Linked DNA regions of Homo sapiens. The protein of the gene in region 1 purifies or fractionates together with the protein of each later gene. This does not show direct contact. Each region holds a gene or a part of one and is shown on either strand. Other genes may lie near its edges.

Region 1 (4,980 bases):
TCTCAATTTGAGTTTGTCTGATGTTTTCTCATGGTTAAATTGATGTTATGCATTTCATAACATCTCAGTAAGAATACCACATGGGCAAAGTGTTCGCCTCAACACTTAATGTCAGAGGGCACATGATACTAACATGACTTCTTACTGGTGATGATAACTGTGATCACTTGGTTAAAGTAATAATCCACGTGGTGTCTCTACTGTAAACTTACTATTTTCTCTTTTGAAATTAATACATATTTGGGGGTAGGTACTCTCAGGCTTTCAGATGATTACTAGTCTTAGCATTCATTGATGGATTTTGCCATTGTGTTCCAATGGTGGCTCTTTTGTTTCCCTCATTCCTTCTGAATTTATTAGTTGACACGCGTCTGTAGAGAACAGTTTTCCTGTCTTCCCCGACCATTGTTGATCTACTGGAATTAATGAATTGGCAGCTGGGTAAAGATAAATTTAAACGTAGTAATCTCTTTGTATAACATAATTATCACAGTTACAAGGCAGCTTAATCTAAGCCTGGGAGTTAGACGTGGTAGGTTGGATCCTACCAGGAAAGATACTTGAAGAACTGGTCTTTTTGAAAGAGTAGGGCTAGAGAAGATGCTAATGATTGGAGGGGAGAAAAACCTGGCTAGAGAAGTTTTATCACCAGAGAGTAATATACTTAAGACTTCCAAGTCTTTTTCCCCCCCACCTGTTCTTCAAAATATCTAATTTATGATTATGTTATACTAGATACTGCTAGACATGACATGGATTTTTATGCCTTTATTTTTCAGTTAGTGCTCATTACAAACTTGGCACCTGTTGTTTGAATATAACTTAATGGTTACGTTTACATCAAACTAAGAGTAACTGTTGTGGACTTCTAACTTAATATGTAGAGTCTGGTCTACACGATCCCAGTCCCTCACACACATCTAAACTTAATTATGGACTTGAATGGATTCTGAATTTGTTTTACATCAGGGGCAACGTTGGGTATAGTTGCCACTGGAGAAAAGAAAGGGATCAAGAACACTAGAGGCCCCATATTTGGAAGAGAGTTCTCTAATTCTCTTCATTTGTGATCCTGGAAAACTGGCAATATAATAGTAGAGAGAATTCAGCTGGGGGAAGTTTTTGTTCAGGGACCAAGTGGGGCAACGTGGAAGGAAAGTATTTTAAGTATAGAAATGTAAAAGCATGTTTACAGAGTAAATAGTGAATTTATGTAATTTCTCACCATAAGAGAAAAAATTTAAGTTCAGGAAGAGTTTTTGGGAATCTATGAAGGGAGAATGTACGATAACTGGTTTGTAAAATGTGCATTGTAATCTCAACTCTTAGGAGGTAACTATTAGAAGTGAAATTGAGACTCCATAGATCGGGGGTCTTACTACGGCATTTTAAAAGTTCTGACTGTGCTCATTTTTGAGGAATAGTTGTTTAAGGCTTTCTATTTTTCTCTCTGTGCCTACCACTTATTTTCTAGGAAATCAGAATAAGCATTGAAGATTAAATAGATAAAACATGTTGGTGAGAGAATATGAGACAAAGAGCACAGAAGAGTGTGCTCTCAGGAGCTACCTGAAGAGACTTCATTTATTTTTCTTTTTCTGTCCCATGTATTTTTCTGAGTTGTCTCTTGCCTAGTTCCTGTTGTTTTTCTTAAGTACCTGTTCTGTGTCTGTTGTGGAATATTTTTTAACTGTTTTGTTTCTAGAAAAAGGCAGAAACATTTTTCAGATAGTTTTGATCACTTACTATTTCCAGACAATGTGCTAGGCATTTAAGACACAAAAATGAATAATAAATGTATTTTACTTTCACAGTGTTCAAAGTTTAGTAGAAAAGGATAGACAATTGTAATATAGTATGAAAGAGTGTCTATTAAATGCTGTGGGATCAAGGAGTAATGGAGGAAGTTGAAAGCTACACAAGATGGTTAAGTCTTGAGTAGGTCAAATTTACCATATCAAAAAGAGAACCTTCTAGAAAGAGGGAATAACATATGCAGAGGCATCGAGGTAAGAAACAGTATGAGGTTTTTTGGTTTTTTTTTTTTGTTTTTTTTTTTTTTGTTTTTGAGATGGAGTCTTCGCTCTATCGCCCAGGCTGGAGTGCAGTGGCGTGATCTCAGCTTACTGCAAACTCCGCCTCCCAGGTTCATGCCATTCTCCTGCCTCAGCCTCCTGAGTAGCTGGGACTACAGGCGCCCACCACTGCGCCCAGCTAATTTTTTGTATTTTTAGTAGAGATGGGGTTTCACTGTGTTAGCCAGGATGGTATTGATCTCCCGACCTTATGATCCGCCCACCTGGGCCTCCCAAATGCTGGGATTACAGGCGTGAGCCACCGCGCCCGGCCGAAACAGTATGACTTTTTTCCAGGAACTGCAGTGTTGTGTTTGGAATTTAGTGTTTTACGCAGAAGATGAGGAAGAAATAAAGCTAAAGAGGTGGCAGGAGACAGGATATTCTGCTAAGGGTTTTAAGTTTTTATTTTGAATCATTGAAGGCTTTGTAAATGGTGGAAATGACTTAAATTACATTCTAGAAAGATCATGTTAGCAGCAATATAGAGGAATAATTGAAGTAAAAGCCTGATTGAAAGTAGGGAGAACTGTTAGTAGATGGATGTAGTAATCCCAGTCTCAAATAGGTATATACCTAAACCAAGACAGAGGCCTTGAAAATGGAGGATATAGATTTATGAGGTTTTTTTTTTTTTTCTTTTAAAGTAGAGTGGAACTTGACTTGTTGACTAATACAGTATTAGTGAAGGAGAAGAAAACAGAATGGATAACTCTCAGGTTTGGAGCATGATACCAGTAACCAGAATAGTCATATAGGAGGAACAGATTGGGAATGAGTTCAGTTTGGTGTGCTTTGTGCTAAAAATTCTCATGGACAGTTAAGTGAAGATGTTCAGAGAGATATGTGTTGGTCTGATACTCAGGAGACAGATTGTGGCTGGAGACAGAGATTTGGAAGTTATTACCTGTAGTTGGTAGACTAAAGATGTGGGTGGAAGTGCCCCTTTTGGGTATAAGTTGGTCAAAGATAGAACATTAACATTTAGGAGTTAAGAGAATGAAAGTAGTTGTATAGTGCTGGAATTTTTCTTTTCTTTTTTTTTTTTCCATCTGTATGTAGTTGTTCCTAGCTACTGCTGCAATGGAAGTACTTTTTTACTTTTTAAAATTTTATTTTAAGTTCTGGGATACATGTGCTGAACATGCAGGTTTGTTACATAGGTATACATGTACCATGGTGGTTTGCTATACCTATCAACCCATCATGTAGGTTTTAAGCCCTGCATGCATTTGGTATTTGTCCTAATGCTCTACCTCCTCTTTCCCCCCACCCCCTGAAAGGCCCAGGTATGTGATGTTCCCCTCCCTGTGTCCATGTGTTCTCATTGTTCAATTCCCACTTAGGAGTGAGAACATGAGGTTTTTGGTTTTCTGTTCCTGTATTAGTTTGCTGAGGATGATGGTTTCCAGCTTCATCCATGTCCCAGCAAAGGACATAAACTCATTCTTTTTTATGGCTGCATAGTATTCCATGATGTATATGTTCCACATTTTCGGTATCCAGCCTATCGTTGATGGATATTTGGGTTGGTTCCAAGTCTTTGCTATTGTAAATAGTGCTGCAGTAAACATACATGTGCATGTGTGTTTATAGTAGAATGATTTATAATCCTTTGGGTATATACCCAGTAGTGGGATTGCTGGGTCAAATGGTATTTCTGGTTCCAGATCCTTGAGGAATTGCCACACTGTCTTCCACAATGGTTGAAGTAATTTACACTCCCACCAACAGTGTAAAAGTGTTCCTATTTCTCCACATCCTCTCCAGCATCTGTAGTTTCCTGATGTTTTAATGATTGCCATTCTAACTGGCGTGAGATGGTATCTCATTGTGGTTTTGATTTACATTTCTCTAATGACCAGTGATGATGAGCTTTTCTTATGTTTGTTTACTGCATAAATGTCTTTTTTTTTTTTTTGAGAAGGGTGTGTTCATATCCTTCGCCCACTTTTGGATGGGTTTTTTTTTTTTCTTGTAAATTTGTTTAAGTTCCTTGTAGATTCTGGATAGTAGCCCTTTGTCAGATGGATAGATTGCAAAAATTTTCTCCCGTTCTGTAGGTTGCCTGTTCACTCTGATGGTAGTTTCTTTTGCTGAGCAGAAGCTCTTTAATTTAATTAGATCTCATTTGTCAATTTTGGCTTTCGTTGCCATTGCTGTTGGTGTTTTAGTCATGAAGTCTTTGCCCATGCCTATGTCCTGAATGGTATTGTCTAGGTTTTCTTCTAGGGTTTTTATGGTTTTAGGTTTTACGATTAAGTCTTTAATCCATCTTGAGTTGGTTGTAAAGTGTAAGGAAGGGGTCCAGTTTCTGTTTTTTGCATATGGCTAGCCAGTTTTCCCAGCACCATTTATTAAATAGGGAATCCTTTCCCCATTGCTTGTTTTTGTCAGGTTTGTCAAAGATGAGATGGTTGCAGATGTGTGGTGTTATTTCTGAGGCCTCTGTTTTGTTCTATTCATCTATATGTCTGTTTTGGTGCCAGTATCATGCTCTTGTGGTAACTGTAACCTTGTAGTAATAGTTTGAAGTCAGGTAGCGTGATGCCTTGAGCCTTGTTCTTTTTGCTTAGGATTGTCTTGGCTATGCGGGCTCCTTTTTGGTTCCACATGAAATTTAAAGTAATTTTTTTTCTAGTTCTGTGAAGAAAGTCAATGGTAGCTTGATAGGAATAGCATTGAATGTATAAATTACTTTGAGCAGTATGGCCATTTTAGCAATATTAATTCTTCCCATCCATTAGCATGGAAGGTTTTTCCATTTGTTTGTGTCCTCTCTTACTTCTTTGAGCAGTGGTTTGTAGTTCTCCTTGAAGAGGTCCTTTGTGTCTCTTGTAAGTTGTATTTCTAGGTATTTTATTTTCTTTGTAGCAATTGTGAATGGGAGTTCACTCATGATTTG
Region 2 (4,980 bases), on another chromosome or scaffold:
AGGTGTGGGGGACACAGCCCCGTCCTGCAGTAAGCCTGCTTTCGAGGGGGAATGAAAGACAAGTGACTGGGCTGTCTACTCAGGAAGTGTGAGGAGAGGCACATGTTGCTATAGGGGGCCAGAAGACACCTTAATCCCAAGACCGTGAGGTGACACTCCCCCAAACTGTGGGAATCACAGCCCTTCCCCACCCCAGACTGGTGCAGGTTCCTTCCAGTGTTGGAGATGACAATGATGGTGATGGCGGTCACATTTATGGAAGGCTTACTATGTGTCGGGCAGTGTTGTCAGTGGTCAACGTGTACTTTATCACGAATCCTCACAGCAACACTTTGAAGCAAGTACTGTTACTCTCAATTAGGAAACTGAGGCAAAGGGTGAGGTTGAAAAACTTGCTCAAGGTCACATGGCTAGAAAGTAGCAAAGCCCAGATTTGAAAGTGGGAAGTCCAATTCCAGAAACTGCTTCCTTAACCACTTGTAACTGTGGTTTCAGGCCAAGGGACACACTCAAATTACCAGCACCTATGGGTCCAGTCACACCAGGTGGCTTGTACAGATCTGAGAATAAAACCCAAAGTGCCACGGGTTGGGGATCATCTGGCCAGCCAGGTCTTCCCTGTCTTGTCTTCTGCCTTGATTCTGACCCCAGAGATCACATGGGACTGCAAGAGTTTCCGGGAGGGCTCAGTGATGGAGCACCCAGCAGACCACCAGCATGCCTTAGGGCTGTAGGGGTCACATCCACTGCAAAGGGCTACGTTCCATGAGAAACACAAAGATGGATCCCAAAGGGCACTGGTCCACAAAGGGCTGACAGGTTGCAGGGTCAGACAGCAGAGATGTCCGTTTTCAGGACACAAGACGGAAAACACCGACAGCCAAAAAAGGGGGCCGGGGAGGGTGGGGGAACGGCATTCATTCCCTGCTGGGGAGGGAGGGGAGGCAGCATTTGAGCTGAGTGGAGGACGGGAGGAAGGGCAACCCAGGCAGAAGGTCCAATCTGGGCAAAGGCCCAGATAGAGAAAGAGAGAGACCAGCGGGCAGAGGCCGGCTGGGAGGGTGCACGCAGAGAAGGGTGGGGGGAAATGCGTGAACAGCAGTCTAGGACACCTGAACTCAATGCATGAGAGGCCACCGAAGAGACGCTCATTACCAGTGCTGTGCTTTACAAAAATAACACTAGTTCACAATGGCAAGACCTTCCAGAACGATGCCAAACACACCCAGTGAGGGGGCAAATTCATAGGTACAGGTACAAGGGTCAAAGTTGGTATAAATTCCAAATTAAAATAAATATGGATAATATTTAAACTGAGCCTTAGGCTGGTTGAACGTGATGTTCCAGAACCCAAATGTTCTGTCATTGGGTCTGGGGCAGCTGCAGCCATTCTCACTCATGCCATGCATCAACTGACTCATCTGTAAAGCAGTCCCAAAGAGAGGCCAAAAAACCCCTCTTCAGATCTACAAAAACATGTATCTTTTAGCAGTGTCTGTGTTTAGATATACTCATCAATATGTGACAATAACAGTAAACATAGGTAGCATTATACGAGGACATACAAAATCACTATTGGGAGGCCTGTCTTCAATTTTGAATAAAATTCCTATTTGCCACAATGCAGATACTCCCAGATTCGATTTTTCTCAGGTCTTGAGTCCTGTTTCGTGATTGCAGTACTGCATTATTCTCTCCTGCAACTGACGGCAAAAACCACCATCCCTGCTTGGCAGGCCCCTTTGGAGGCTGAAGGCCAGTGGCAAGGGGCACTGTTGCCTCTACTGACCTGATTAACCATCTGGTGCTGCTGGACAGTTCTCTTCTCCTTAAATTCTTCTGATTCAATTTTAATTTCATACATCGCCCCACAACCTCCTAAAATAAACATGATTCAAAAGCATTTCAATTATTAAGTCATGGCAGCCATGGTCCCATATATCCTTGAAGTACTGTACAATCCAAAGGTCTGAATATTATCATTCAGCACAAAGGAAAGTTGCTAAGACCATTAGGAAAAGATCATGGCTTCCAATCTGACCACATGCTCCTCCTGACAGGCTGCCACAATCCAAAATGTGCTCTTCCTTTTGCGAGGCAGCTGCACCACCCAGGGTTACCACTTGTGGGCAGGAAAGATAAGGCACAAAGCATGGACAACCTAGGGAGTGTAGAGTGTTTCCTTTCACTAGGCCAATAAACGCCACGGAAGAGGATGAGAAGGACGGAATTTCAGCGTTCCAGCTTCCAAAGGACCAACAATCAGTGTTTTTGAAGTGCAAAAATACACTACAATTTGGTTTGAAAACTGTGTAATACTGTCCAAAGAAAGGAAAGAACCAGGGGAGCATGAGAGCCAGGGACACAGCAAACATGCTATGCATGGAGCTGCTCGGGGCTGTCTCTGGCACTGCTGGGTCCACAGCACAGCATCCAGGATTTCATCCTGGCTTTTGGGGGGAGAACTTTTTGGTGAAGCCCTCGAGGCAGAGCTTGGTGGGCCATCCACCCCCTGCCTGAGCTTTCCTCCACCTGGCTGGAGAGCTGGTGCTGATGACTGATGATAAACACACAGCTCTAGCATGAAATAACATGGGCAAGAATATGTCCCCTGCATGATTTACAGAGCCAGGCCATTGTGTGAGAGGTGCAACGTACTCAACAGGCTTTGCTCTGCTTCTTTTTTTTTTTGAGATGGAGTCTCGCTCTGTCGCCCAGGCTGGAGTGCAGTGGCACGATCTGGGCTCACTGCAAGCTCCGCCTCCCAGGTTCACACCATTCTCCTGCCTCAGCCTCCTGAGTAGCTGGGACTATAGGCACACACCATCATGCCCAGCTAATTTTTTTTTTGTATTTTTAGTAGAGACGGGGTTTCACCGTGTTAGCCAGGATGGTCTCGATCTCCTGACCTCGTGATCCACCCGCCTCGGCCTCCCAAAGTGCTGGGATTACAGGCGTGAGCCACCGCGCCTGGCCTGTTCTGTTTTTCTTATAATGTGCTCTAGGAGTCCAAGTTTTGGTTAAACCCAGGTTCTCAGCCTCAACTCCCCTTCTGCACTCTGTCCAGGACTGCGCAGAGCCACAGCTGAGTCAAGCTCTAACTCTGCCCTGGGCCTGGGGCAAGTTCAGGACCTGGTAACATCAAGGCCTCAGCATTGCCCCAAGACTCCTGCAGAGCCCTCACCTGATGTACCATTCCAGCAGATTTTTTTTTTCTTTTTGAGACAGAGTTTCGCTCTTGTCGCCCAGGCTGGAGTGCAGTGGTGCAATCTCAGCTCACTGCAACCTCTGCCTCCCAGGTTCAAGCGATTCTCCTGCCTCAGCCTCCTGAGTAGCTGGGATTACAGGTGCCTGCTACCATGCCTGGCTAATTTTTTTTTTTTTTTTGTATTTCTGGTTGAGATGGGGTTTCACCATGTTGGCCAGGCTGGTCTCGAACTCCTGACCTCAGGTGATCCACCTGCCTCAGCCTCCCAAAGTGCTGGGATTACAGACATGAGCCACCGCGCCTGGCCCCAGCAGATTTTTTTTTTTTTTTTTTGAGACACAGTCTCGCTCTGTCACCCAGGCTGGAGTGCAGTGGCATGATCTTGGCTCACTGCAGCCTCCGCCTCCCGGGTTCAAGCAAGTCTCCTGCCTCAGACTCTTGAGTAGCTGGGACTACAGGCGTGTGCCACCACGCCCAGTTAATTTTTGTATTTTTAGTAGAGACGGGGGGGTTTCACCATGTTGGCCAGGCTGGTCTTGAACTCCTGACCTCGTGATCCACCTGCCTCAGCCTCTCAAAGTGCTGGGATTACAGGCATGAGCCACTGCTCCAAAACCCCAGCAGATCTTTAGATTGATTTATTTCCTGTGGTTTCCAGAATAAAATCTACTTTCTAAACTTTCTCCTCAATCCTTGGAAATGTTATGTTCTCAGTAAAGTCAGTGAGCCCTCATGGCAATGCTGAGTGGCAAAGGCTGCCTCTGGGTATGGAGAGATTCAGACTGATGCCTATCCAGCGGCCCACGCCACGGGCCGTTCTGTGTGTACGTGTGTGTGTGTGTGTGGATAAAGGGCCTATCTTCCCCATCCTGTGGATGCAGAAGTTGCTTCTCCAGCCTGCTCCTAACACACTGCCAGCCTGAACTTCTAGGTGCCAGTGGCCACCTGAGAAGGACAGCGCTTGGCTGGGGCTGGTAACTGGGCTTAGGACAGAGTCTCCCCTGAGTCCCGGTTCTGGTTCCAGTTCCACTGTCTCTTCCCTATGAGGAGCTAGGCAATTCCTTTGGCCTCTCTGGGCTCATTTCCTCTTAGGGAAAGTAAAGCAGCTGAAGAAAATCTTTCTGGGGTCCACTCCAGCTCTGATATCCTAGGGTGTCAGAAGAATGGGGGAAAATTAGAGCAAAACCTATTCAAAGTCAAATGACAGACTGTGGACCTCAGCTCTAGGGTGACTGAGAGGGACCTTGTCTGAGCTGAGCCAGGCTGGCAACCTTGAGTCCTCCCAGCTGCGCCTTGTCCTCAGTTTCCCTCTGATATTTCTGAATCCTGACTGCCATCCCATGAGGTGGGGGCAGCCGAGCTCCACCTGTCCAGCAGCAACACATCTTGAGAAGCCACTCACCAGCAGCAAGCCCCCTCCTCCAAGCCCCTGACCCTCTGTCCTTCCAAAGGGCAAAATCTTATCCAAGCGCCGTAGGAAGAGTGAGAGAAACCTTACCTGAAATGTCAGTGACTTTTATAGCTGTAGCTCGTGGAAACTTTTCTTTGAGAATTTGGGTCACTCTGAGCTCCCCCTCAGTCTGAGTGGCAAACATCCGATGGTGAAGTGGAAGCTGCCACAGAACAGAGAGGAAGGTCAGGGCAGAGGAAGATGCTGTTGCCCCTGAGCTGGGCCACTGTGCAGGCCCGCCTGCCATTCCCCCTGCAAGGCAGGCCCCTGAGCCCTCGCCAGCACAGCCATGGGTTATGTCAGAGGGGCTCTGTGGTATCAG

What was found.
Region 2: the proteins of SDHAF3 (region 1) and BOLA3 purify together in Homo sapiens (affinity purification with mass spectrometry; one large-scale study listed by BioGRID and IntAct). This does not show direct contact.

The regions. Positions count from the first base shown.
Region 1 is NC_000007.14:97,119,807-97,124,786, forward strand, and holds part of SDHAF3 (succinate dehydrogenase assembly factor 3, mitochondrial precursor), read left to right. Parts: intron 1-4,980. UniProt on the Homo sapiens protein: Plays an essential role in the assembly of succinate dehydrogenase (SDH), an enzyme complex (also referred to as respiratory complex II) that is a component of both the tricarboxylic acid (TCA) cycle and the mitochondrial electron transport chain, and which couples the oxidation of succinate to fumarate with the reduction of ubiquinone (coenzyme Q) to ubiquinol.
Region 2 is NC_000002.12:74,140,483-74,145,462, forward strand, and holds part of BOLA3 (bolA-like protein 3), read right to left. Parts: intron 4,822-4,980; coding exon 4,707-4,821; intron 1,879-4,706; coding exon 1,790-1,878; intron 1-1,789. UniProt on the Homo sapiens protein: Acts as a mitochondrial iron-sulfur (Fe-S) cluster assembly factor that facilitates (Fe-S) cluster insertion into a subset of mitochondrial proteins. Probably acts together with NFU1.